Homo sapiens: one gene and its partners. The protein of the gene in region 2 purifies or fractionates together with the protein of the main gene of each other region. This does not show direct contact. Each region holds a gene or a part of one and is shown on either strand. Other genes may lie near its edges. The genes, in order: UTP15, WDR36, GNA13, GNAQ, AATF, MPHOSPH10 and RP2.

Region 1 (3,500 bases), about 38 Mb from region 2:
CTTAAAAAAAAAAAAAGAAAAAATTATCAATGAAAGCACATCACAAAGCCAAGTGTGATGGCTCACACCTGTAATCCCAGCACTCTGGGAGGCCAAGGACAGCAGATTGTTTGAGCCCAGGAGTTCAAGACCAGCCTGGGCAACTTGAAGAAACCCTGTCTCTAAAAAAATAAATTAAAAAAAAAAAAAGAAAGAAAGAAAGTACACATGAAGCCAAAGATCAGGGATTCTCAACCTCAGAATTACTGTCATTTTGGGGCACAGAATTCTTTTTTGTGGGGGTTGTTCTGTGCATTGTAGGATGTTTAGCAGCCTTCCTGGCCTCTATCCCCTATATGGTAAGTACCATGAGTTGTGATAAAAAACAATACTTTCTCAAGATATTGTCAAACGTTCCTTGAGGAACAAAAATCACTCTTGGTTGAAACCACCACAAATAGAGCCAATTTACACTTAGCTTTTAGGAACATACCTAAGAATCAAGTCCCAAATTGCCGAGTAACATGATTTCAGTAACATGTGTAAACTTGCCATGTATTTACATAAAAAATTCCTTTGTATTAAAAATATTTTCTAGCTTTTAAAATATGTACAGTCAATCCTTCTTATGGCAGGTTCCACATCTGCAGATTCAACCAACCATGGATTGAAAATATCCATAAATATATAAACAATACAGAATTTTAAAATACAGTGTAACAACTATTTACATAGCATTTGCATTGTATTAGGTATTACAAATAAGCAAGCCATGATTTAAAGTATACAGTGGATGTGTGTAGGTTATATGCAAATATGCCATTTTAAATAAGGGACTTGGGCATCCACAACCAATTCTCCTCAGTTACCAAGAGATGACTGTATACTTTTTAATTAACATGCTGAAAACTAAAGTTTTTCATAAGAGCAGAAAAAAATGAAAATATGGAAATAAAATAATAAAAAATAGATCATGTAAGCCGGGCACGGTGGCTCACGCCAGTAATCCAGCACTTTGGGAGGCTGAGGTGGGAGGATCTGTTGAACTCAGGAGTTTGAGACCAGCCTCGGCAACATGGCAAAACCCCATCTCAACAAAAATACAAAAATGAGTCAGGTACAGTGGCGCGTGCCGGTGGTCCCAGCTACTGAGGAAGCTGAGGCGAGGGGATCGCTCGAAGCCAGGAGGTGGAGGTTGCAGTCAGCCAAGATCATGCCACTGCCCTCCAGCCTGGGCGACAGAGCAAAACCCTGTCTCAAAAAAAAAAAAAATTAATAATAAATCATGTAAATTCTAGAACTGTGCCATACTTCTAGCTGCACATGGCTACTGACCACTTGAAATGTGGCTAGTGAAAATGAGAAACTAAATTTTTTATTTTATCTAATTTTAATTTAAAAACTGAGACAGTAATTTTTATAAAATATTATCTTTTTTTTTTTAGAGACAGGGTATCACTGTAACCCAGGATAGAGTACAGTGGTACTATCACAGCTCACTGCAACCTCAAACTCCGGCTTAAGTGCTTCTCCTGCCTCAGCCTCCCTAGTAGCTATGATTAAAGGTGTGTACCACTGTGGCCAGCTAATTTTTTTAATTTTTTGTAGAGATGGGGTCTCACTATATTCCCTAGGCTGGTCTCAAACTCCTGGCCTCAAGTGATCCTCCCACCTCAGCCTCCCAAAGCACTGGGATTACAGGTGTAAGCCACTGTACCAACCTAAAATATGATTATTGTATCATAGTGCACATGTTTAGATGCTTAATTTATTTCTAGTATCTTAATAATTTTGACATAGATTACATACTGAAATTATATTTTATATGTAATATATATTTTATTTTTACATTAGATATTAGGCTAAATAAAATGTGCTATCTAACTTTTAGGTCAGGCGTGGTGGCTCATGCCTGTAATCCCAGCACTTTGGGAGGCCAAGGTGAGTGGATCACCTGAAGTCAGAAGTTCCAGACCAGCCTGGCCATCACGGCGAAACTCTGTCTCTACTAAAAATACAAAAATTAGCCGGGCAAGGTGGCAAGCGCCTATAATCCCAGCCACTCAGGAAGCTGAGGCAGAATCGCTTGAACCCGGGAAGCAGAGGTTGCAGTGAGCTGAGATCCCACCACTGCACTCCAGCCTGGGCAACAGAGCGAGATGTCATCTCAAAAAAAAAAAAAAAATTAATTTATCTAATTTTTAAAAAACTTTTCAGGCCAGGCACAGTGGCTCACACCTGTAATCCCAGCACTTTGGGAGGGCGTGGTGGGCAGACCACACGAGGCCAGAAGTTCGAGACCAGTCTGGGCAATATGGCGAAACCCCGTCTCTACTAAAAATACAAAAATTAGCCAGGCATGGTGCTGCACACCTGTAATCCCAGCTACTTGGGAGGCTGGGTCACGAGAATCGCTTGAACCTGGGAGACAGAGGTTGCAGTAAGCCCAGATTGTGCCACTGCACACCAGCCTGGGCAACAGAACAAGACTCTGTCTCAAAAAAAAAAAAAAAAACTTCAAAATATATGAATGTACAATAATGATTTTAAAAGATGGTTTATAGAATAACATTATTTGAAAGATTATCATTCAAATGGTTCAATAATGTTGTTTAAGTATACAAGTTAAAACAAATTGTGTCAAAGGAGAAAATAAGTAGCTATGGGTGGCCGGGTGTGGTGGCTCACGCCTGTAATCCCAGCACTTTGGGAGGCTGAGGTGGGCGGATCACGAGGTCAGGAGTTCAAGACCTGCCTGACCAACATGGTGAAACTCCGTCTCTACTAAAAATAAAAAACTTAGCCGGGCATTGTGGCGCGTGCCTGTTATCCCAGCTACTCAGGAGGCTGAGGCAGGAGAACCACTTGAACCTGGGAGGCGGAGGTTGCAGCGAGCCGAGATTGCACCACTGCACTCCAGCCTAGGTGACAGAGTGAGACTCTGTCTCAAAAAAAAAGAAAAGAAAAGAAGTAGCTATATGTAAACAAAAGGTCAAAACTATTTTCAACTCAACAGGTTTTTTTCTCCTGGAAATCATTATCTGTATACTTATCACAAATATTGCTGAAATAACTCATTTCCTCAAGCAGTAAACAGGTGTACACTAATAATAATATACAAAAAAATTAAAATGCCAACCTATCCAGTGAGCCAGAGAGTAACCTCTGTCCAGAGCTGCTTAGACATAAACATGTCACGGTTTTGTGATGATTTTTCAAAGATACTAGCAATTGTCCTCCTTTTAACATGTCCCAGACTTTAACATAACGACCTCCTATAAAAAGAAATCATCGTTAGTTGGATATTCTGCCCACAGATTCAACATATTAAAGATCTGAAAAGCATTCTTCTCTGGACACTCCACAAAGCATGGAGGCTGAGTGAGGGAGTCCAGGCCAGGCTGCCTGGTAAAATCCTGGATGCACCACTTCCTGGGTCATTGGTAATAACAGTTCCTACCTCACAGAACTGTTATGACCATTAAATAATATTTGTGAAGTGTACATAAATTCCAGCAAAA
Region 2 (3,500 bases):
AGATTTCTTTTAAAAAAAGTATTTTAGATGGGAAATTACTATGGTTAAAAAGCATTTTATCTTCCTAAATGAAACACAAACATTAAGCTGACCTATTTTGAAAAATTCATAAATGTTTATGCTATGTTGTATAGTTATACAATCAAGAAACTAAAGGAGCTTGTATGCTATAACCTGCAAGTAATACAGGCCCTACATTGTCCTGCTTTACATTTTTTTAGGGGAGTTATTGTTTTTAGTCGGCCTGCTCCTGGCATTCTCTTCTTCTAATTTATTCATTCTAATGTATTATCTAAGCCAAACAAAGCAAAAATAAATAAACCGTGAATGTTATCTTTGAGTAACAAATTGTACTTTAGTGCACAGGCTCTCTATACGTATTTTTGCTTATTACTTATTGGTTACTAGCTTTGCTCCAGATAGCTGAGACTGTCAGAAAAATGACTCAACTCCAGCTAAATATCATAGTATACATACATACTAAATGTTCTATAAGTGATCCCTATGGGCTATAAGAATATAGATTCTAGAATGAATTGTCTTAGGTTCAAATCCCAGCTCTGCCCCTTACTCGCTTCATTGATCTTAGGCATGTTGCTCATAAAGCCTGTTTTACTGTCCATAAAAAGCAGCTAACCAATGTACCATGCTGTAGGACTGTTGTAAGGAAAATATGAAATAATCCATGCCAGACAGAAAGCCTGGAACAAAGTAATCACACAGAAAATGTTACCTGTGATTATAATTACCACTACTATTACAACCATTATTCAAAACTATGTAGGTAAATGTCCCTACGGGAGCGTAAGATAGAATCTTTACGGTTTAGAAAATTATATAAAAGCTTAAGACTGGATTTTCATACTACAGAGAATAGAATATACAAACTTACAATGCAATTTGTATAAAATAGGGTCAAATGTTGAGTTACACTTTTAATAAGCATTTTCAAAAGCAGAGGCATCTATTAAAAACTATTAGAACTAATAAGTTCAGCAAGGTTGCAAGATATGAGATCAATAATGCAAAAATCAACTGCATTTTGATACACTCTCAATGAACAATCCAAAATAAAAAAACAAAACAAAACAAAACAAAAACAAAACAAAACAAAAAAACTCTACTTCAGTAACATTAGAAAGAATACTAGGAAAAATGTACCCAAAGAAGTGTAAGACTTATATACAAACAACTACAGAATATTGTTGAAAAATTAAGGAAGATCTAAACAAATGGAAAAACACCCCATGTTCATAGATCAGAGACAACACTCAAACTGATCTATAAAATCAAAATGAAATCCCTATCAAAATCATAGCTGCTTTTTTTTGCAGAAATTGATAAGCTCATTCTAAAATCCATACGGAAATGCAAGGGACCAGAAGAGCCAAAACAATCTTGAAAAAAGAACAAAAAACCTGGAGAAGTCACACTTCCTGATTTCAAAACTTACCACAAAGCTATCAAAATCAAGACAGTGTGGTACTGGTATAAGAACAGACATACAGATCAATGGAAGAGAATTCAGAGTCCAGAAATAAACTCTTACATACATGGTCAAATGACTTTCAGCAGAGGAAACAAGATCTTTCAATGGAGAAAGAATAGTCTTTTGAACAAATAGTGCTGGGACAACTGGATATCCACATGTAAAAAAATGAATTTGGACCCCTTTATCATACCATACACAAAAGTCAATTCAGAGAGAATAAATCTAAATATAAGAGCTAAAACTAGAAAACTCTTAGAAGTCACAGGAGCAAATTTTTGTGGCTTTGGGTTATGCAATGCTTTAAAATGTTAAACTACGTTTTTTCAGTCAATATTATGATGAGAAACCTTGAGTATAACAAGATTTCCATAGGAAAGTTTTAAAGAGAAGATACTCTTATAAACAAGCTCACTTACTGTTGCAGTTATGTCATCTTTCTTCAACTCTTTTGGCTTGAGAAAGTAAGCGCCTATTGTAGATTTCTGATAATTCCAGGTTGAGCAAGATAGCTTACCTTGATGGCAAGCAATGATACCATCCCAGTCACTTTCACGAGCTTCCTCTAAAACGTAATGAAAATCATAAATCAAATTACTTTTCATTCTGTTATTCATTTATTACTTATTAGGCATCCAATATTTCAGACACTAGGGATACAATGGTAAAACAAACAGGTAATATCTGATAGCAATATGTTTCCAATCTAACAAGAGATTATTTTTTAATTGACAAATAAAAAATGTGTGTATTTATGTGTTTATGGCATAGAACATAACGTTGTGATATGTATACATTGTGGAACGGCTAAATCAAGCTAATTAACATACCTAACAAGAGATTCTAATCAGAAGAAATTACAATAAAGTATGACAGTGTCTTATAAGACCACTCAGGAGATTTGGGGAAAGTAAATGGCTCTCTGGATGGAGTAGTAGAACAAGTAGAAATTACCTGGGGGGGATAACATGCACAAGAAAAAAATGAACAAAACGGAGGACAGCAAGTAAGTGTAGTATCTTCTTGGGAGGGATAGGAGTAGGGCAAGGCAATCAGGACCACACTACAAAGGGTCTTGAAAGTCATGTTAAGGAGATGAGATTCCACTCTAAAGGTGTTAAGAAGCCACTAAAAAATTTTAAGCAGATGTGTGATGTGATTCAAATGTTTTTAGAAACATGACTCAAGCTCTGAGAAAACAGAAAGGTGGTCATAATAACAACTTTCAAATAGAAATGGTGCCTCTACAGTAATTTCCCATGATAGATTTCACGCAACAAACCCATTATCTATATTTTTCTTAAAATCACTTCTTTGAAAGTGGCACAGGTCAAATGACATAGTATACTAAGACCTCAGTATTCTTAGATCTTAATTAGTCAGAGCTCTATGTTCTCATACTCTGCTGTTCCAGTTCTTTTTACATTAGTGACTTTCATTATACCAGGCATATGACAGAATAAAAAGGCTATAAAATCAAATATTATTAATACCTGTTATACAGAAGAGCAAAGCCTGATGTTAATAGATAAGAAGTTCACATTTAAAATAACTCATTTTTAGTCTTCACACAAGACCAGCATGCACCTGGGGTTACCTTCTGAATGCTTATTAATATTTGTAAAAGCATTTATTAAAACAGAAAATAAAACAGCATACAGTAGGAAATAAATGACAAAGGAGAACTTCTCAAAACACAGTTTGAAGTTACTTACCTGCTGCAAACTTTGTGATGGGTGGAAGTCTCACTGACATGGTATTCTGAAGTCCTTTACGTTTAACTCTCTTTTTATTTATTAATCCTAAGGATGGGGGAAAGGGGAACATACATAGCTATGAATCCTTCTTAATAAAAAGTGTATATAAAAGAAAAGCTATCAGTCTTGTAACTATAAAGTACAAGATATTCCCATTTAAGTCAGAAACAAAACAAAGATGTTATTACCACTGTTATTTTTTAATTCTAAGAAAAGTTATTTTAGATATTGTTAAAAATAATCTTAAAATTTAT
Region 3 (3,500 bases), on a different chromosome or scaffold from region 2:
TCTGAAACTAAAGTCTACTTTTCATAACAAAACTATTTACTTGTTCCATCTCTTAGTTGTTTAATAAACATTTTCAGAGAATCATAAATTATTGTGCCCCTAGCTTTGTTTAGCAATAAAAGGTAATATAGAAAGCAGCACAGTATTTTCCAATTCCGGAAGCTTTAGCACCAAGAACCCAGACATCCTACAGCCAGTCAAGTTTTCACCCAAAAAAATGCGAACATGAAAATTTCAACATAATAGAATACAAGTGATACCACCTATGTGTGCATGCACACACACTTCACAAAGTTGTATTAAAACTATAAGTGTAAACTTAAAGGAACTGACGGAAATTTTAAAAAAGAAATTAATTAAAAAGAAAAAAACTTCATTTTTAACGTAAATAAACATAAAGCTCTGGGTTTACAAGATTTGGATAAAATGTAACCACTCTGACATCTGATCAATTTCATCAAAAGGAAATTAAACTCAACTTTAAAATCTCTACTATCTCTGGCTGGGTGAGGTGGCTCACTACTGTAATCCCAGCACTTTAGGAGGCTGAAGCAGGAGGATCACTTGAGCCCAGGAGTCCCAAGGTTACAGTGAACTATGATCACACCACTGCACTCCAGCCTGTGTAACAGAGTGAGACTCTGTCTCTAAAAAATATTAATAAAGTAAGATAAAAACCTCTACTATCTCTAATGTTATATATAATCTTTATTTTAGATGGGATGAAATATTTAACACTAATCCTAGAATCAAAAGATAACCAATAGGTTTTTAGCAACTCAAAGTCCTTGCTTGACTATACTTATAGAGAAAATGGACCAATCATCCAAAAGAAACATAGTATTTTACAACTGAAAGTAGCAATTCTTTAATATTTAAAGCAAATCCAAATTAGCATTAATTAATAAATGACTCTGATTCTTTTTTTTTTTTAAGAGGGAGGGGGCTGTCCTCACTATGTTGCCCACATTGGACTTGAACTCTTGAGGTCAAGCAATCCTCCTGTCTCCCCAGAAGCTGGGACTACAGGAGCTTCAAATGACTCTTGATTGTATTATATTTCCAATACATGCTGCAGTGCAAATAAATAAATAAAAAAAATTAGCTGAAACTGAAGTTTCTAGAATACTTAGTTGGACCTCCCCTTTTTACAGGCCAATCATGGAGCTAAATGGTTACTTTGTTACACAGATTGAGGGAGTAAATCTCTGTGTTAATGAATACACTATCTTATCGGCTTCAAGAAGAGTAACCTCAAGCACAAAAAGAAAAGAATTAAGTCTAACTGAAGGTACCATGATTAGCAAAAACACTTTGGTTTCAGGAATTGCAAAGACAGACTGGCCATTACAGGAAGTTGTATTAATGCTGACAATGTTAAACTGTTTACAGAAAGTAGGAAGCTGTGGGATGTTCCTCCCACTGTCACACACACTGTCCTGTCCTACGTAACAAGTGTTGCCTTATTTCTCAATAAGTGAATATAAATTAAACAAAAAAAAATAGTTGGAAATGACTCCTAGCCATTTTGTCAGTTTTCATCCATATCTCCAATTGTATCATCCAGCCAACCCCTGACTCCCATCTCTTTATTCATCTGAGTTACCAAATTATCTAGCTATTGTCACATAAGAAGGTTTTCTAAAGACAGGGTAACTCAAAAGTGCAGTGGCAGGCTATGTTGAATGTACAGCCAGAGTAGAGTATTTCAAATATTTAATTCAGTACTAAAACAGGCCACTTCTTACAATCTATTATCCTCAGTATGCTAATTTATAATAACTAGAAAGGTACCTTAAGTTATAACGAGAATGTGAATCTTGTATTTTTCTTTTCCACAGTAAGCTATTTAGCTGACCCATGATGGAACTAACCAAAAAAGGAAATGTTTACCTTTGGGAACTTAGAAAGAAAAACATTCATGTTTACACCCAAAGTTATTACTAACAAATGAGTAGTCTGCTAAAAACCTAAGCTGTGTTATCAACACCCTATCCCTTGTCCCGAAAATTGATTAAAGGGCAGTTGTTCATCTTAGGCAAAATGTTAAGTCATGTAGGGCCTTAAAACCTGTCAGTTTTTAATGTGCATTAATAAGTTTAATAATCAAATCATTAGTTGAAACGAAAAGGTTAATTTTAATTTTAGTTATTTTATCTGCTAACCTCTATTTCTTCTGATGTTTACCTTTCCTATCCAAAATTCAAAAATATGCTGCTAAACATAACAAAACACATTTCAACCCCCCCAAATAAAAATTATAATTACACAAGAACTGTCCACTTCCTAGAAAATTAGGAAACTATTATAGAAATAATCCATATTTCCCAGAAGGAACTTAATGTAGAATTAAATTATATTACATATTTTTTAATTTTTATTTTTTTGAGACAGGGTCTCACTCTGACGTTCAAGCTGGAGTGCAGTGGCATGATCTCCACTCACTGCAACCTCCACCTCCTGAGTTCAAGCGATTCTCGTGCCTCAGTCTCCTGAGTAGCCAGGACTACAGGTACATGTCACCATGCCTGGCTAATTTTTGGTTTTGGTTTTGGTTTTTGGTAGAGATGGGGTTTCACCATGTCAGCCAGGCTGGTTTCCAACTCCTGACCTCAAGTGATCTGCCTGCCTCAGCCTCCCAAAGAGCTGGGATTACAGGTATTTTATTTTTTTAGAACATCTTTGTAATTAAGAATGTCTGAAAAACGAGGAAATAAAAGTGTCAGGCACTATGCTAGTAGGAGAGAAAAAGACAAACTAGGCATACCAAAGGACTTCTACATGACTGACAGCCACACATGAAAGCTGTGACTCTAACACACATAATGGGTACTGTGAGGAGTGACAGGAGTAAGCATGCTAGGGAAAGCAAAGGACACGGAGATCTCCATTCTAGCCAAGAAGACTGGAGATGCTTCAAATAAAGAGACACAGCCCCTAAGGCACTGTTCCTGGGGAAAGGGAGGGGGCATGGAGCAAATTCATCCAAACCACCTATGGCTATTTGCTGAAAACACAGATCACTGGGTCCCATCCCAGAATCCAGAATCAGATCCTCAGGTATAAAGTCTGAGCATCTGCTTGTTTGTTTTAACAAGCATTCCAGTCCATGGGGTCCATGGGCCACATTTAGTGTGATTATCACTACATTAAGTGAAGGGTAAGACCTAGTAACAGATAGGGTAAAGAATAATTCTGGCAGAGGGACTACGCATGATGAGAGCTATAGAAGCAAAAAATTAGGGTATGTGGGAATCAAGAGATTACAGAGTATGTCCAGTGGCCTAATGAAATATATTGCTGGAATCACAGGTAAGCTAGCTAGAGTCTTTACTCCCACAAAAAAGCTGAGCTCTGTTCTGAAGACAATGGTGAGCCACCAAAGCTTTCTGAGCAAACCAATGCTGTGTTTGAACAAGACTGCCTTGGAGTCCAAGCAAGAGGTAGCAGAACACAAAATAGAGGAAAGGAGGGAATGAATGCAAGAGACGTTACAGAGG
Region 4 (3,500 bases), on a different chromosome or scaffold from region 2:
GTTGACTTTATCTTTCTTTTCCACAGACTCCTCTACCACTTTCTGATATTTTTCTTTCTCTTCTTTACTTCTCTGTTAGGACTCATTTTTGTCCTTCCCTTTCCGTAGACAGCTTTGGTGTGATGGTGTCACTGACATTCTCATTGTGTCTTCCCTCCTCTAGCTATCTTAATGACTTGGACCGCGTAGCTGACCCTGCCTACCTGCCTACGCAACAAGATGTGCTTAGAGTTCGAGTCCCCACCACAGGGATCATCGAATACCCCTTTGACTTACAAAGTGTCATTTTCAGGTAGTAACTGAGTCCATGAAACCTATTTCCCAGCTTTTATGCCTTGAGTACATTTGGTAAACTCTATAAATACTGGAATCATGTGTAGGCTTCAAAACAAGATAGGCTTTATACCAATTATTATCATTAGTTATACAAATAAAATGACATATCCCTGAGGGAGGAAATAACAGAAAGATGTACTGGAGGCCGGGCGCGGTGGCTCACGCCTGTTATCCCAGCACTTTGGGAGGATAAGGTGGATGGATTACCTGAAGTCAGGAGTTTGAGAACAGCCAGGCCAACATGGTGAAACCCCTTCTTTACTAAAAATACAAAAATTAGCCGGGCATGCTGGCGGGCACCTGTAATCCCAGCTGCTTGGGAGGCTGAGGTGAGAGAATCACTTGAACCCAGGAGGCGAAGGTTGCAATGAGACGAGATTGCGCCACTGCACTCCAGCCTGGGTTACGAAGCGAGACTCCATCTCAAAAAAAAACAAAAGAGAGAGATGTACTTGTACTAGAACATTTGGCATTTCAATTTAAATCACTAAGAAATCAATAAAATCTTAGTTTTGCTTGTGGTTGAGTAAAATCGGTTAGTAAACCATTGGTCTTAACTGTAATTTTTTGGGCAATCATTTTAACTGTAAGGACAATGGATATGTTTTTAGAATTATGTAAGCTATGAATGATCATATGATGCTGTCAATCACAGAAATTAAGTAGTGTCAGAAGTTTTCATGCTGGTGTTTTCCCCACGTCCTCTGGTACCAATGCAAAATTTTTCAGTAGCAAGAAAAATATGTGATGTTTTGTATTCATAAAATATGTTGCTTGAAAAATTTTGAAATACATGATTTTGAAAATGGGTTAATTAACCTAGTCTGTATTTACCTAGCAAAATAGAATGAAAATTTATTACCTCATCTCTCACTGCTGGTGTTCTGTCTGGATAATACTTCAGCAGAAGCATTCTGTTGTTTTGTTTTTAGGATGAGAAAAAATAAACAATACTGATGTACTTTCATTCAATCTCTTATTATGCAATCACTCAGTTGTACTTTTAGTTAGAATACAAACTACATGGTGCTTTGAGAAATGAGAATGTGTCTTGGAGTGTGGAGAGTTGATTTTCTAGGAGCGCCCACCCCATTGAAGATGGATGTGTGCAATATTGGTTATGAAGCAGAAGTTATTATCTCCTGTGTCACTCTGCCAAGTGATTCTGATTAGCAGGCCCACCTTCATTCCTTGCCGTGACACTGTGTTTTCTTCTAATCGGCCTCTGTACCTGAGGTCAAATCTGGCTGCCATACATTGTTCTAATAGATATTGCCACAAAGTAGGTGGCATTTTGAAACTATTTCTGAGCCTCAGTTTTTTAATCTATAAAATGGTTGTATTGCATTAGATGATCCTCAGGGTTCCTTGTAGCTCCAGCATTCTATATTACTTACGTTTTAAGTCTATGGTATTTAGAAATCTTTAATTTGAGACACCCAGATTTCCTTCCTCCATGTTACAAAATATTTTTAGAAAACATAGCATTTCATGGGGATTTTCATCTCCTTATTGCTTCGCAATTAGTGGATTCTGAAACCAGATTACAATTACATGTTGTTTTTTCCACGTTTTGTACACTGGCTTTTGAAGTACATTTTTTGCCACTACAGTAAAAGTAATGACTTAGAAGTATAATTTTCCACCACCATCAGAAGCATCTTTTACGGCCCAGTGTGACAGAGTTTCATGGAATGAGGATTTCACGTAAATTAGTAGCGTATTATTCACACCTTGGCATTAGGGAAGAGCCAGCATTTTAATACTTCCGAAGATCTAAGAATTCTGGCTTTGATGTCCATAGTACGTGGATCTCCCTGAATGCATTGTTTTGCCCCTTAGATCTCTCTCCTGTGCCTTACTAGGCTTACGAGTAGTGACTTAGAAGATCTTAGTTCTTGTTTAGGTTTAATGTCAGGAGGCAGGAAAACACCAGGAGCAACTGCAATTTTAAACAAATGTTTAAAGAGCCCTACTTTCAAATTTTTGTACCTAAACCGCTCATTCTCTGAGACTATTTTTTTCCTGTGAACATTGTATACATTTCATTCAAGATACGGATTCAACAATTTGGAGAAACTTTGACTCAGTGCCAAGCATTGCTAGATATTTTCAGACATACATTGTCACTCAAATTAATTGATGTCAGTGTTGGTTTCTGAGCAGTAATTCAGCACAGAATTGATGTGTTAAAAACAAATGATTGAAATGGTTCACATGATGGCCTCCGTCTTGTACCTTGTAGTATCTTCATTCACTCACACTTTATTTCAAGTAAGTGACCTGACATGACTGGACCTGTGCCAAATTCTTATCAATATTGGGAAGAAAAAAATGCCCAACATGCCGACCCTGCTGATAAAGGATGAGTGGGGTCGTATCTGCATTTAGTGGAAGCATCATACCACCCATATTGAATTGTATAGCATCTCACATATTTTAAGTATACTTGTAGTCATATCTAGCATCCATAAGAAATACATGAGGATCTTTTTTCCGATTTTATAGGAAAAGAAACTGAAGTTCAGTATTTGCCAGTAGGGCTTAACACAAAACTCATTCAGTTTTGGACTCTTCAGCGCTTCATTAAATAAAATACCATTTTGCTTGGCACAGATAAGGATGTTTTTTACAGTGTTACAGTTTTCGTACACACTGGTAACTTTCTTAAAACCATCATGATGTGTTACCCAGAATGTTTTAACTTTGAATATTAGGTAATAAGAAATTAGTAATTATTCAATAAGTATTAATTGAATTGACTTGGATGATCATCGTCATTCAAGAGAATATTTTCCCTAAGTTTGTAAGTAGTGCTATATTTATGTTGACTTTTTAGTTTTACTTTATATGTTATTAATATGAGTATTGTTAACCTTGCAGAATGGTCGATGTAGGGGGCCAAAGGTCAGAGAGAAGAAAATGGATACACTGCTTTGAAAATGTCACCTCTATCATGTTTCTAGTAGCGCTTAGTGAATATGATCAAGTTCTCGTGGAGTCAGACAATGAGGTAAGTGTTCTTTAGACAGGCAATGGATTATCATTTTATTATCTGATACAAGTAAATGATAGAAAGTAGGGTGTGGGGAATGGAGTGAACTTACTTCTTTGCTTTCTTGAAATTTGATTTTAGGACTTTTAAAATAACCAAAAATAATCCT
Region 5 (3,500 bases), on a different chromosome or scaffold from region 2:
CTTTAGCCACACATGATACCAACACATTCATAGCCACACAAATTTTAAGAGGGAATCTAAAGAAAGTCATTTGCATACTGCAAATATACCACAGAGGATTAGTCTCTCATCCAATACAATTAACTCCATGGGAGTTATTCTAAATGACTCTCCTACTGTCATTTTAAGCCTGACTCCTCTGCACCCAGTTGAAATCTACATCTGTACCTTTCATACAGACTTAAGAATCTGCACTGAATCTTAAAGTCCTTGGGCGAAGAGAAGCAATGGTTTTAAAAGTTAAACACTAAGGGAGAAAAACCCTGAATTACGATAATAGAACTATAAGTGCTATATGCAGAGAAAGAGAAACAGAGATTAAAATTCCAAAAATCTTCTGAGAGAAATTTAAGAGAAGACGCTAAGATAAACTAGTTCTGCTAATCATCTGTCAATAATCCAGGTTTGGCCTTAAAACTTGTTTCTTCATAAAAATTAGCAATGATTTTGTAGGTGAGGCATGGTGGCAATAGAGATATTTCATCAAATCAAATAGCTGAAGCCTGTGGGCTTCAGTGGTTCAAATGAAGAAAGAGAAATAAATTCCTCTGAAAGCAGATCTCTTTCTAATTTCATATGTTTATGTAAGTAGGCACTGGAAGAAGTAAAACAAATTTATAAAAAATATTCACTTCCAAAAGATGAATCTTTATTGCAAAAGGGAAAAGGATATCTCAATTGCAATTAGAAAACCTCCCATGATGTTTTTTCATTTGCTTATTTTGGACATTATTACTACAGCAATTATGTTTAAGAATGCAGGGACCAGAAGCCGCTGGTTTTATTATCACTAGAAAACAGCAAGCTATTTCTCTACCCTGTTTATCTGATTGATTCCCAACATCTTTCTGGCAGCCAATCTATCAGTTTATCTCTCCTACTTCATCACAGTCACTTCTGGCAGCTAAATACAAGATCCAAATCCAGTGTTACACAGACATATGACACAGTAAACCTATGTAACACTGCTGCTGTGTAAACAGCTGCCCTTAAGGCTAAGCAGAAATGGGCTTCTGGTTCCTAGTCAATATTCTGTCAAAAGCAAGGAGTAGGGGGAGTGAGGGGGAGTGGTTAATAATAATAAAGAAGAAGAAATAAAAGAGAAAGAAAAATAAAAAGGAAGGAAAATAATGGAATAACTGCATTTCATTGCCCTTACCTCGTTCCAGCCATACAAAAGATTACAACAACCGTTCCTGGTTTTCCTAATTTTCTCAGATCCCTTGAGACTGGGCAATCAGGGTCACCGGGGTGCAAGTGCTCATGGAAGGCTGCCCCAGCACAACAGGGTGATCCTCGGGAAGAATATGCCCTTGCCAAAGGCTGGAAATTGGAGCTCCCCACTGCAGTGGTCTCTGCAATTCCAACACCAAGTTGGTGCAGCATTTACTTTCAAACACTTTGTGTACTATACATATTCTGAGCTGCATTTTCGCACACAAGTGCTTTGCATAACTATTTTTACTCATTCATGACTTGGAAGATTGTTTTATTGGTCTATCTAGCTAGGTCTAGTTTATTCAGTCCAATATTTCAGAAGATTCTGTTGTGTCCATGGTAAGAAAAAGAAAGCAACAACAACAAAAAATACAGTTAAACAAATGATTCCCGTGGCTATTACTATTTTCCCAAAGCTACCACTATCACTGGGTTTAAATTTAATTAGAAAATTGCTTTCAAAACAGTTGCTAAAAAAAAAAAAAGAGATTTGAGATATTGGCTGAAGAATTCAATTTTACTTCTGATTTTAATTTGTATAGCTTTAACTTTACAAATAAACCTTTCTACTAAAATTCAAGTTTCTGTTACAATTATTAGAGCTTTTTATTTCAACAATGATGATATAGTATTTGTAGTAATTTTCTATGTGATTTGGAAAATGGAGAGAGAGAAAATGTTTTTGCTCTAGTCTGTTAAAATTCCTCCAGATAATCAATTCGGAAAGGCTTGATTATACCTCTAGTTCTAAGGGAAAATCATAGATACAGTTAGGTTTTCAGGTTGGCCACAGAAACCTATTTAACCCATACCAATATACATGAGGAACAGGACTAATAGTACTATTAAGCATCTAATCAACATTTATAATACTTTCATTAGAAAAAATGCATGCTAGAAACAGTTAAAAATGGCAGATTGAACACATTAGTTTATCTCTTCTCAACCCCTCTAAGAGACAGTTGAGGAATAAAATAAATATTAACTCCTAAGAAAAAAGAGAAAAGGAGCACTAATGTGTGCATATTTTCATAAATTTTTCCAAGACAGTAAGGAGATGGAGAAGTTATCACCCAAATGCCCAGAGTGAATAAAGGTGAAGATGAAGCTAATTGTATTAGGCCGCAGAATTCCTGTGAGGATCAGCTCTCTGGCAGTTACCACGCAAGGTGGGAAAAAGAGAAGGAGCAGAACCACTTGGGCCTCCTCCATTATCCCACACAGCCAAGTGACTAACCACCTCTACCACCCACCTCCTCTCGTGAGAGAAAAGAAATTTTATTCTTTGGAAATATTGAACCACAGAAGCTCCAGAATAGAGGATACCAGGCAAAGAAGGCTGGAATGAGGTACAAGGGAAAGGCTCTATGTTAATCTCTGAAACCTCTCCCTTTCTCCCACCTCATTTGTAGAAAGCTAACATCCCATTCTATAATTTCCTAGGCAGGAAAGCAGAGGAGCCTTTTCTGGAAGAAACTGAATGGTGTCTGCCCTCCCACCCCCAAAATTAGATTTCAAAGTTGCTATGGTCTTCTGCATGTGTCTCCCAAAATCCGTATGTTGAACACTTAATCCCCAATGCAACAGTATTGGAAGGAATGGCCTTTGGGAGGTGACTGAGTCATGCAGGCTCTGCCCTCGTGGATGGGATTAGGCGTCCCTCTAAAAGGGCATGATGGAGGGAGTCTGTCCCTTTTGCCTTTCCACCTTCTGCCATGTGAATTCCCTCAGAAGAATTCAGCATCAAGGCACCATCTTGGAAGCAGACAGCAGCCCTCTCCAGACAACAGAAACTGCCACCTTCTTGTTCTTGGACTTTACAACCTCCAGAACTGTGAGAAATAAATTTCTGTTCTTTTAAGATTACCTAGTCTGTGGTATTTTACTATAGCAGCACAAACAAATAGATATATAGAAAACAAAGCAAACAAATACAAATTCTGACATCCAAGGCTACTCTAACAAAGAGGTCAGTTCACAGCATAATTATATTTAAAGAAGCCAAAAAGCTCTGCCCAGGTTTCAGAGATTCCGAATAATAAACTTTAATGCTTTACTCTTAAATATGAACAGACAGTTAAGGATCGCCTGCATCTGAGGAAATCCTCATGCACAAACCAAACAAATAGAAAAGAGACTCAAGGAAGCAATGCAGAGAACAAAATAAATAATTAAAAAGGAGAAAAAAACCCCCAAAACTTACAATGAATATCCCAAGAGTGGGAGAGGGTATACTTTGATAA
Region 6 (3,500 bases), on a different chromosome or scaffold from region 2:
TGACATATATGGAGGTGACTATATGTTTTTTCTCCTTAATGTCTTGCAGTCAGGAATCATACTAGATTTTCTAATACTGATTCAAGAGAATAAGGTTCATGCAGTTGTGTGGCATCATTTTTCCACTGTGCTGTAGGATTTTTGCATCACTGTTCATGAATGAGACTGTGCTCTGTGTGTGTGTGTGTGTGTGTGTGTGTGTGTGTGTGTGTGTGTGTGTTTTAATGCTACCTCTGTCAGGTTTGGGTTTTCATGACCTAACAGTTTCAAAAAAAAAAAAAAAAAGGTTGAAAGTTCTACTTTATTCTTTATATGTGGAAATTGAAATAAATTATTTTTGATTTATTGAAACTTAACTTGAAGGTCTGATATAATTTCACAATAAAACCAAACCTTTCTTTCTTTATTTGTTGGGGAAGGGCGGGAGGAGTGGGGTGGAAGGATACTAACTCATTGATATTTTATAATGGTGCTTTTTTTCCCTTAGAATTTCTCTATCTTCTGGGGACAATCTGACAACCATGGATTTAATTCAGATTCTTAGATTTTAAAAACAATTCTTTTGATATTCTTGGTATCTTTCATTCTCTGCCTGTTCTCTTTTTTTTTTTAATTTTTTCAGACAGTCTCTAGCTCTGTTGCCCAGGCTAGAGTGCTGTGGTGCAATCATAGCTCACTGCAGCCTTGAACTCCTGGACTCAAGAGATCCTCCCCCATCAGCCTCTCGAGTAGCAAAGACTATAGGCACACACTACCATTCCCAGCTAACTTTTTTAATCTTTAGTGGAGACGGGCTTTTGCCCTGTTGCCCAGGTTGGTCTCGAATTCCTGGGCTCCAAACAATCCTCCCTCCTCAGCCTCCCAAAGTGCAGGTGTGAGCCACTGTGCCTGGCCCTATTCTCATTTTTATTGTGATAAAAATTTTAAGGTAAATAAATGATAGAGCCAAATTATTAGAGCCAGACTACATCTACAAAAATTTAATGAAATTTCACTTGTCTGAAATCATGACACAAAGAAACAATTTTTACCAACTTTGAAAGATATGTTTGTGATGGTATAAATTAAAATTCTGGCTATTTGGCACTCACAAAAATCTGTGGAGCACCTTAAAGACATAGGTGGTATCCGCTGGGCGCAGTGGCTCACGCCTGTAATCCCAGCACTTTGGGAGGCCAAGGTGGGTGGATCACCTGAGGTCAGGAGCTTCAGACCAGCCTGGCCAACATGGTGAAACCCCGTCTCTACTAAAAATACAAAAAAATTAGTTGGGCGTGGTGGCGGGCATCTGTAATCCCAACTACTCAGGAGGCTGAGGCAGGAAAATTGATTGAACCTGGGAGGTGGAGGTTGCAGTGAGCTAAGATCACGCCACTGCACTCCAGCCTGGGTGACAAGAGTGAAACTCTGTCTCAAAAAAAAAAAAAAAAAGAAAAAGAAAAAGAAAAGACATATGTGGTATCCTCCAAAACAGTGGAAACAGTTAAGATGCTCACAGGACAGCTTTATCAGGAGAGACATGCTATACATATAAAGATATTAGGGACAGAGAAAAAAACAATTATCTTTAAAAATTTTTTTATTTTTGAGACAGAGTCACACTCTGTCGCCCAGGCTGGAGTCCAGTGACACCATCTCGGCTCACTGCAACCTCCGCCTCCTGGGTTCAAGGGATTCTCCTGCCTCAGCCTCCCGATTAGCTGGGATTACAGGTGCCCGCCACCACACCTGGCTACTTTTTTTTTTTTTTAGTAGAGATGGGGTTTTACCATGTTAGCCAGGCTGGTCTCGAACTCCTGACCTGAAGTGATCCACCTGCCTCAGCCCCGAAAAGTGCTGGGATTACAGGCATGAGCCACCACGCCCAGCAGAAGCAACTATTTTACTCACAGGCCCCAAACTGAAATGCAGGCACTGATTTTGCAAATCAGATGCTTTCCATATGGCAAGATTTTTGGTTTTTTGTTTTAAGACAAGGTCTTGCTTGCCGCCCAGGCTAGAGAGCAGTGATGCAATCTTAGCTCACCGCAGCATCAACCTCCTAGGCTCAAGTGATCCTCCCACCTCAGACACCAGAGTAGCTGGACTACAGGCACACATCACCATGCCCAGCTAATTTTTGTATTTTTGGTAGAGACAAGGTCTCACTATGTTGCCTAGGCTGGTTCTGAACTCCTGAGCTCAAGCGATCCTCTTGCTTTGGACTACCAAAGTGTTAGGATTACAGGCGTGAGCCACTGCACCTGGCCAAGATATTTGTTTTCAAAGGATGGTTAATAGTTTTCAAAGGATGGTTAATATCAAGTATATTAAAAATTCCTTAAATTACTAATTACCTTTTCCTGTCTTTTTTCAAAGGAGGATTTAACTTCATCAGAATTTTTCTTTACATTTAAAACACCTGTATCTTCAGTTTCCGCATCATCTGGTAAAGCAAAGGTCACTCTTTTCAAGCTTTCTTTATGTTGTTTATTGTCTTCATTTTCTTGAAGGTCATCATCTTCATCCCTACAATACCAAAACTCTTATAAAAAGAAATATACTACTTTCCATTAGAAAAACAAAAGGAAACAAATTTTCCCTTAATAAAGTTCTTATTTTATATACCTAATGCAACCAAATACTCAGAACTTCCAAAATCATTCAGTTATTAAGGAACAAAAGGTATTATTTAGGTAAAACGCTATGTAAGAAACAGAAAAAAAAGTGTCCAACATATAGAAAATAAATTATTCATCAATCTATAATACAAATCTCTTATCTCACAAAAATAACAGGATTTTATTGACACAAAACCAAATCAAAGTTCCTGGTAAGGAAGGTTTGATTGCTACTACCAGAGATATTTTTCTTCATTAAGTGATCTCTAATGTCCCTTTACAGTCAGAGACTTTCCTCTGGCTATCTTGAGAATATCTGATATTAGAGAATAGAACTTGCTAAGACAAACACATTTGATAACTACGAGTACACACACATGATTGGGCAATTCCAGCTTACAATGTAAAGGATGGTTCAAAATACTCACGTTTCCGAAATACTTAGTTCTTCTGCTTCTTCTTCAGCAATTTCATCATCTTCTTTGTTTGAATCCAGCTCATCATCATGAACATTTGTTATGTCTTCATCACTTTCAACTGGATCAAAAAAATCTTTGTATTTCAGATTTCTGGAACTTTTACCTGACTAAAATAAAAAGATATTAAAAACTATTAATTAGGGATAGAAAAATATATTAACACATGCATATAGATTTGCATGTATATTGTATGTATATATTACTTTCTGACTTAATAACACTACAAGCTAATAACTAATAACCAAACTAATAACTAAATAATTATTAGGTGAAAATGGCAACTAATAACACTACCACAAAATTATAAGACCAACTGGAACATAAATTGAATGGAAGTACAGATTCATTTATAACTGATAAGATAGAGCACAATATTTCTTATCACTAAATCTTCTAACTACAATTAAATCTCTCCTAGAAA
Region 7 (3,500 bases), on a different chromosome or scaffold from region 2:
AAATGACTGTCCTTAAAGACAAATTAAATGGGTAAAAGGTCTTATCTAACAGAAGAATACAAAATTTTAAGCTTTGGTTAATAGATAATAAGTGTAGTGGAAATTTTTAAATTAACATCTCCCTTATATGTTATATTCCTGAGTTGTTGCTCAAATATCATAAAGAACTTAGTTTATAGCTTTATATAACATTGCATTTTATTTTTGAAAAACAAAAAGTATTGTTATTATTTGAAATGTGAATAATGGTGTTTAATAATATCATCATGGCCAGGCGCGGTAGCTCACACCTGTAATCCCAGCTCTTTGGGAGGCTGAGGTGGACGGATCACCTGAGGTCAGGAGTTCGAGACCAGCCTGACCAACGTGGAAAAACCCCATCTCAACTAAAAATACAAAAATTAGCCAGGTGTAGTGGCGCATGCCTGTATTCCCAGCTACTCAGGAGGCTGAGGCAGGAGAATCGCTTGAACCCAGGAGGCGGATGTTGTGGTGAGCCGAGATCGCGCCATTGCACTCCAGCTTGGGCAACAAGAGTGAAACTCCACCTCAAAAATAATAATAATAATAATAATAATATAATCATAACAGGATGGAGTCCCTTTAATTTAGCTTAACTAAGGGAAAAACTAATGCCGTCTGACCACTATTTGCAAAGATCATTTGTAAATTGTGATCAAAATTATATTAAATCTGTCACCAACTTTTATTTGCACCTTATGAAATCATGTTGATTTTGTAGTATTGAATGCCCTTATAAAAGAATTGAAATGATGCAGTGCTAATGGTTAGCACAAGGCCACGCACAGGGTGAGCGCTCAATATTACTAATTAATTTAAAGTGAAAATCTTTTAATGTATTATTTCTGCACCTTAACATGCAATTCAATGTAGTAGTTATTAACCCAAAAATATCCAAAAACATTTTAAACATGAAAATACATTTTAGTAACAATCATAGGAATGTTTACAAGTGGTTATTTTCAGTCTTAGTTTTATCAAAATAGAATTAAATTTCAGATTCCTTTTAAAAATAGGCCTATGAAAGCTGATTTCATAATAGCTGCTATATGTGATGTGGATGGCAGATTCAGTGCCTTCTCACAAGTTCAACCTATTGACACCTCCTGAACCAATTACTTTAGATTACAACATACCCCTTAAAACAGAGTTTCCCCTGAAGACTGAATCCGTGCATCTGAGGATTGGGTCCAAGAATGTGGATTTTTAAACAAGTAGCTCTCCTCTGCTTCCTGGTAAATTATTATGATCAGGTAGATTTGGGAAACAGTGCTTTAAAGCAACCAAAATAATTTTATCATACTTGAACATTACTTGATATGAATGGCATATCTAATGAAAAATCAAATGTATCAAGCTTTTTAATAATCTGCATAGCTTATCATCATGCCTATTTCTTACCTAAAAGTCACAAGGTTTTGTTCCAATTCTCTTGATAGCCCACAAGAGCTAATAAAAGTTATCACCTTTTTAAAAACTGCTGGTGATTGGGCTTCTACAGTTTTAGCATTGCATATACCTTTTCTTATCAGGAAGCAGAAGAGTCATATAGCAGTTGTATTAAAAAACTAAACAATGTGTAATTTATTCAAATAATCATACTACTTACGAAGTAGTCTTTAAATAGCTATACCAACATCTGTTAGTAGAGTTACTTGCCAAGCTGGTTATCAAATGCCTATTTCTTTAAAAAATTCAATTTACAAAGTATTATGTCAACTCCATGTACAAAATCTCATTTGCCATATAATGCAACTAGGAAGCAATTATATAACTGGATATGTGTACATAAAAATGTGCATAGGTTCATTCTAATTGATCGACTAGTAACAAATCCCTCTAAATTGAAAAAGGTAAAATAAGCAATGATATGGAGTCTCAAAAAAAGTATCATGGAGCACTGAGGAAAGTTTAAATTATTAGAGATTTGAAAGAACATTTAAATAGGATTAAAATAATAAACTTTTAGCTACTTCTGTTTTCTAATAAGAATATCATATGCAGAGAAACAAAACTGCAAGCTTATTAAAATGGGTTAAATAGCTTTTAAGCTGATTAAAACTACTTAATTTAAAATGAATTATTTTTGAACCTCAAGTAAATGATGTAATACTCAACAATTTATTAAAAAATAAACTTTAAAAGTTTTAGCATTAGTAAAAACCATTGCTAATACACAAAAGTGTATTATCAAATTCTATATTCACAAGTTGGGAAAGGCTTAATACCAAGTCCTGGTTCCACATTGCACTTCATATTCCCATCTGTATATCAGCAAAGTTGTAGAAGCTGTCTACATCTCCAGATGCCGTCTCCTTGCTTTCAGATACAAACATCTATTTTAAATAGAAAATTAAAAAAAAAAATCAGTACCAAGTACTTCAGAATGCCAAAGCCCATGTTCTCCACAGAACAAAGTTCCAAGCTAATTATTCAAAAGAAGTTCAAGTACATCATTTATAATGACAATATTTAATCTGTAGATTTTCTTTAGAATTCATGTAATACACTTTGAATAGCTATAATGTAAATTAAGCTCTTTTGGAAGCACTTATATAATTAAGGTCTCTGCTTTCATAATACTTGAGTTGTATTTTATTACATCTGGACTTTTACAACACTCAATATTACGGAAGCTACTGAATAAGAGTCACTTAAAAAACTCTTTGTTTCTTCTATTTTCTAATAATAATCTCAGTAGTCTGAGCAGCAAAACTTGAGATTATCCCTTTCAAAGCTGCTAAAGATATATTATTATTTTTTATTTTATTTTATTTATTTTTGAGACAGAGTCTTGCTCTGTTGCCCAGGCTGGAGTGCAGTGGTGCAATCATGGCTCACTGCAGCCTAGACTTCTGGACTCAAGTGATTCTCCTGCCTCAGCCCCCCAAGTAGCTGGTACTAATGGTGTGTACCACCATGCCTAGCTAGTTTTTTTTTTTTTTTTTTTTTTTTTTTTACTTTTTGTAGAGTCTCACTATGTTGCCCAGACTGGTCTTGAACTCCTGGGCTCAAGCAGTCTTCCCGCTTCAGCCTCCCAAAGTGCTGGGATTACAGGTGTGAGCCACCACACCCAGCCTGTTATTTTTAAATAAACTATCTGCTAAACATCAATGAAGCAATACTCAATAGAACCCTTCTAAAGTAGCTTTTACAAATGTCAGCAAGGAATTAGAGCAGATGTGGGTTCTATTCTAGCTTTATCGTAAACTAGCATATGATGCTGACAATTTAATAAACCTCTGTGGGCTCAGTAACTACACCTGTAAAATGAGAAAGCTGGATTAGATAATCTCTAAATCATTCAGCTCTAAAAGTCCAAATTCTAACCATTTTATCTCTCAGTTTCCTTTTCTATTCAACCTGGTATTTTCCCTCTCCCTTAGTACTACTGTGATGATAAAATGAGATCAAAGACAAAGTACTTTAATTTTTGTAAATTCAAGGAATCATAAGCCAAATCAGATGATAAAACCAAA

The links.
Region 1: the proteins of WDR36 (region 2) and UTP15 fractionate together in Homo sapiens (co-fractionation; one large-scale study listed by BioGRID). This does not show direct contact.
Region 3: the proteins of WDR36 (region 2) and GNA13 purify together in Homo sapiens (affinity purification with mass spectrometry; one large-scale study listed by BioGRID and IntAct). This does not show direct contact.
Region 4: the proteins of WDR36 (region 2) and GNAQ purify together in Homo sapiens (affinity purification with western blotting, with the first as the bait; one study listed by BioGRID). This does not show direct contact.
Region 5: the proteins of WDR36 (region 2) and AATF purify together in Homo sapiens (affinity purification with mass spectrometry; 2 studies listed by BioGRID, with this or other methods). This does not show direct contact.
Region 6: the proteins of WDR36 (region 2) and MPHOSPH10 fractionate together in Homo sapiens (co-fractionation; one large-scale study listed by BioGRID). This does not show direct contact.
Region 7: the proteins of WDR36 (region 2) and RP2 purify together in Homo sapiens (affinity purification with mass spectrometry; one large-scale study listed by BioGRID and IntAct). This does not show direct contact.

The regions. Positions count from the first base shown.
Region 1 is NC_000005.10:73,572,243-73,575,742, reverse strand, and holds part of UTP15 (U3 small nucleolar RNA-associated protein 15 homolog), read right to left. Parts: intron 3,255-3,500; coding exon 3,119-3,254; intron 1-3,118. UniProt on the Homo sapiens protein: Ribosome biogenesis factor. Involved in nucleolar processing of pre-18S ribosomal RNA. Required for optimal pre-ribosomal RNA transcription by RNA polymerase I.
Region 2 is NC_000005.10:111,105,848-111,109,347, reverse strand, and holds part of WDR36 (WD repeat-containing protein 36), read right to left. Parts: intron 3,292-3,500; coding exon 3,205-3,291; intron 2,055-3,204; coding exon 1,909-2,054; intron 1-1,908. UniProt on the Homo sapiens protein: Part of the small subunit (SSU) processome, first precursor of the small eukaryotic ribosomal subunit.
Region 3 is NC_000017.11:65,046,741-65,050,240, forward strand, and holds part of GNA13 (guanine nucleotide-binding protein subunit alpha-13), read right to left. Parts: intron 1-3,500. UniProt on the Homo sapiens protein: Guanine nucleotide-binding proteins (G proteins) are involved as modulators or transducers in various transmembrane signaling systems.
Region 4 is NC_000009.12:77,794,312-77,797,811, reverse strand, and holds part of GNAQ (guanine nucleotide-binding protein G(q) subunit alpha), read left to right. Parts: intron 1-163; coding exon 164-292; intron 293-3,219; coding exon 3,220-3,349; intron 3,350-3,500.
Region 5 is NC_000017.11:37,014,954-37,018,453, reverse strand, and holds part of AATF (protein AATF), read right to left. Parts: intron 1-3,500. UniProt on the Homo sapiens protein: Part of the small subunit (SSU) processome, first precursor of the small eukaryotic ribosomal subunit.
Region 6 is NC_000002.12:71,133,634-71,137,133, reverse strand, and holds part of MPHOSPH10 (U3 small nucleolar ribonucleoprotein protein MPP10), read right to left. Parts: intron 3,187-3,500; coding exon 3,029-3,186; intron 2,509-3,028; coding exon 2,337-2,508; intron 1-2,336. UniProt on the Homo sapiens protein: Component of the 60-80S U3 small nucleolar ribonucleoprotein (U3 snoRNP). Required for the early cleavages during pre-18S ribosomal RNA processing. Part of the small subunit (SSU) processome, first precursor of the small eukaryotic ribosomal subunit.
Region 7 is NC_000023.11:46,878,543-46,882,042, reverse strand, and holds part of RP2 (protein XRP2), read right to left. Parts: intron 2,358-3,500; coding exon 2,274-2,357; 3' UTR 1-2,273. UniProt on the Homo sapiens protein: Acts as a GTPase-activating protein (GAP) involved in trafficking between the Golgi and the ciliary membrane.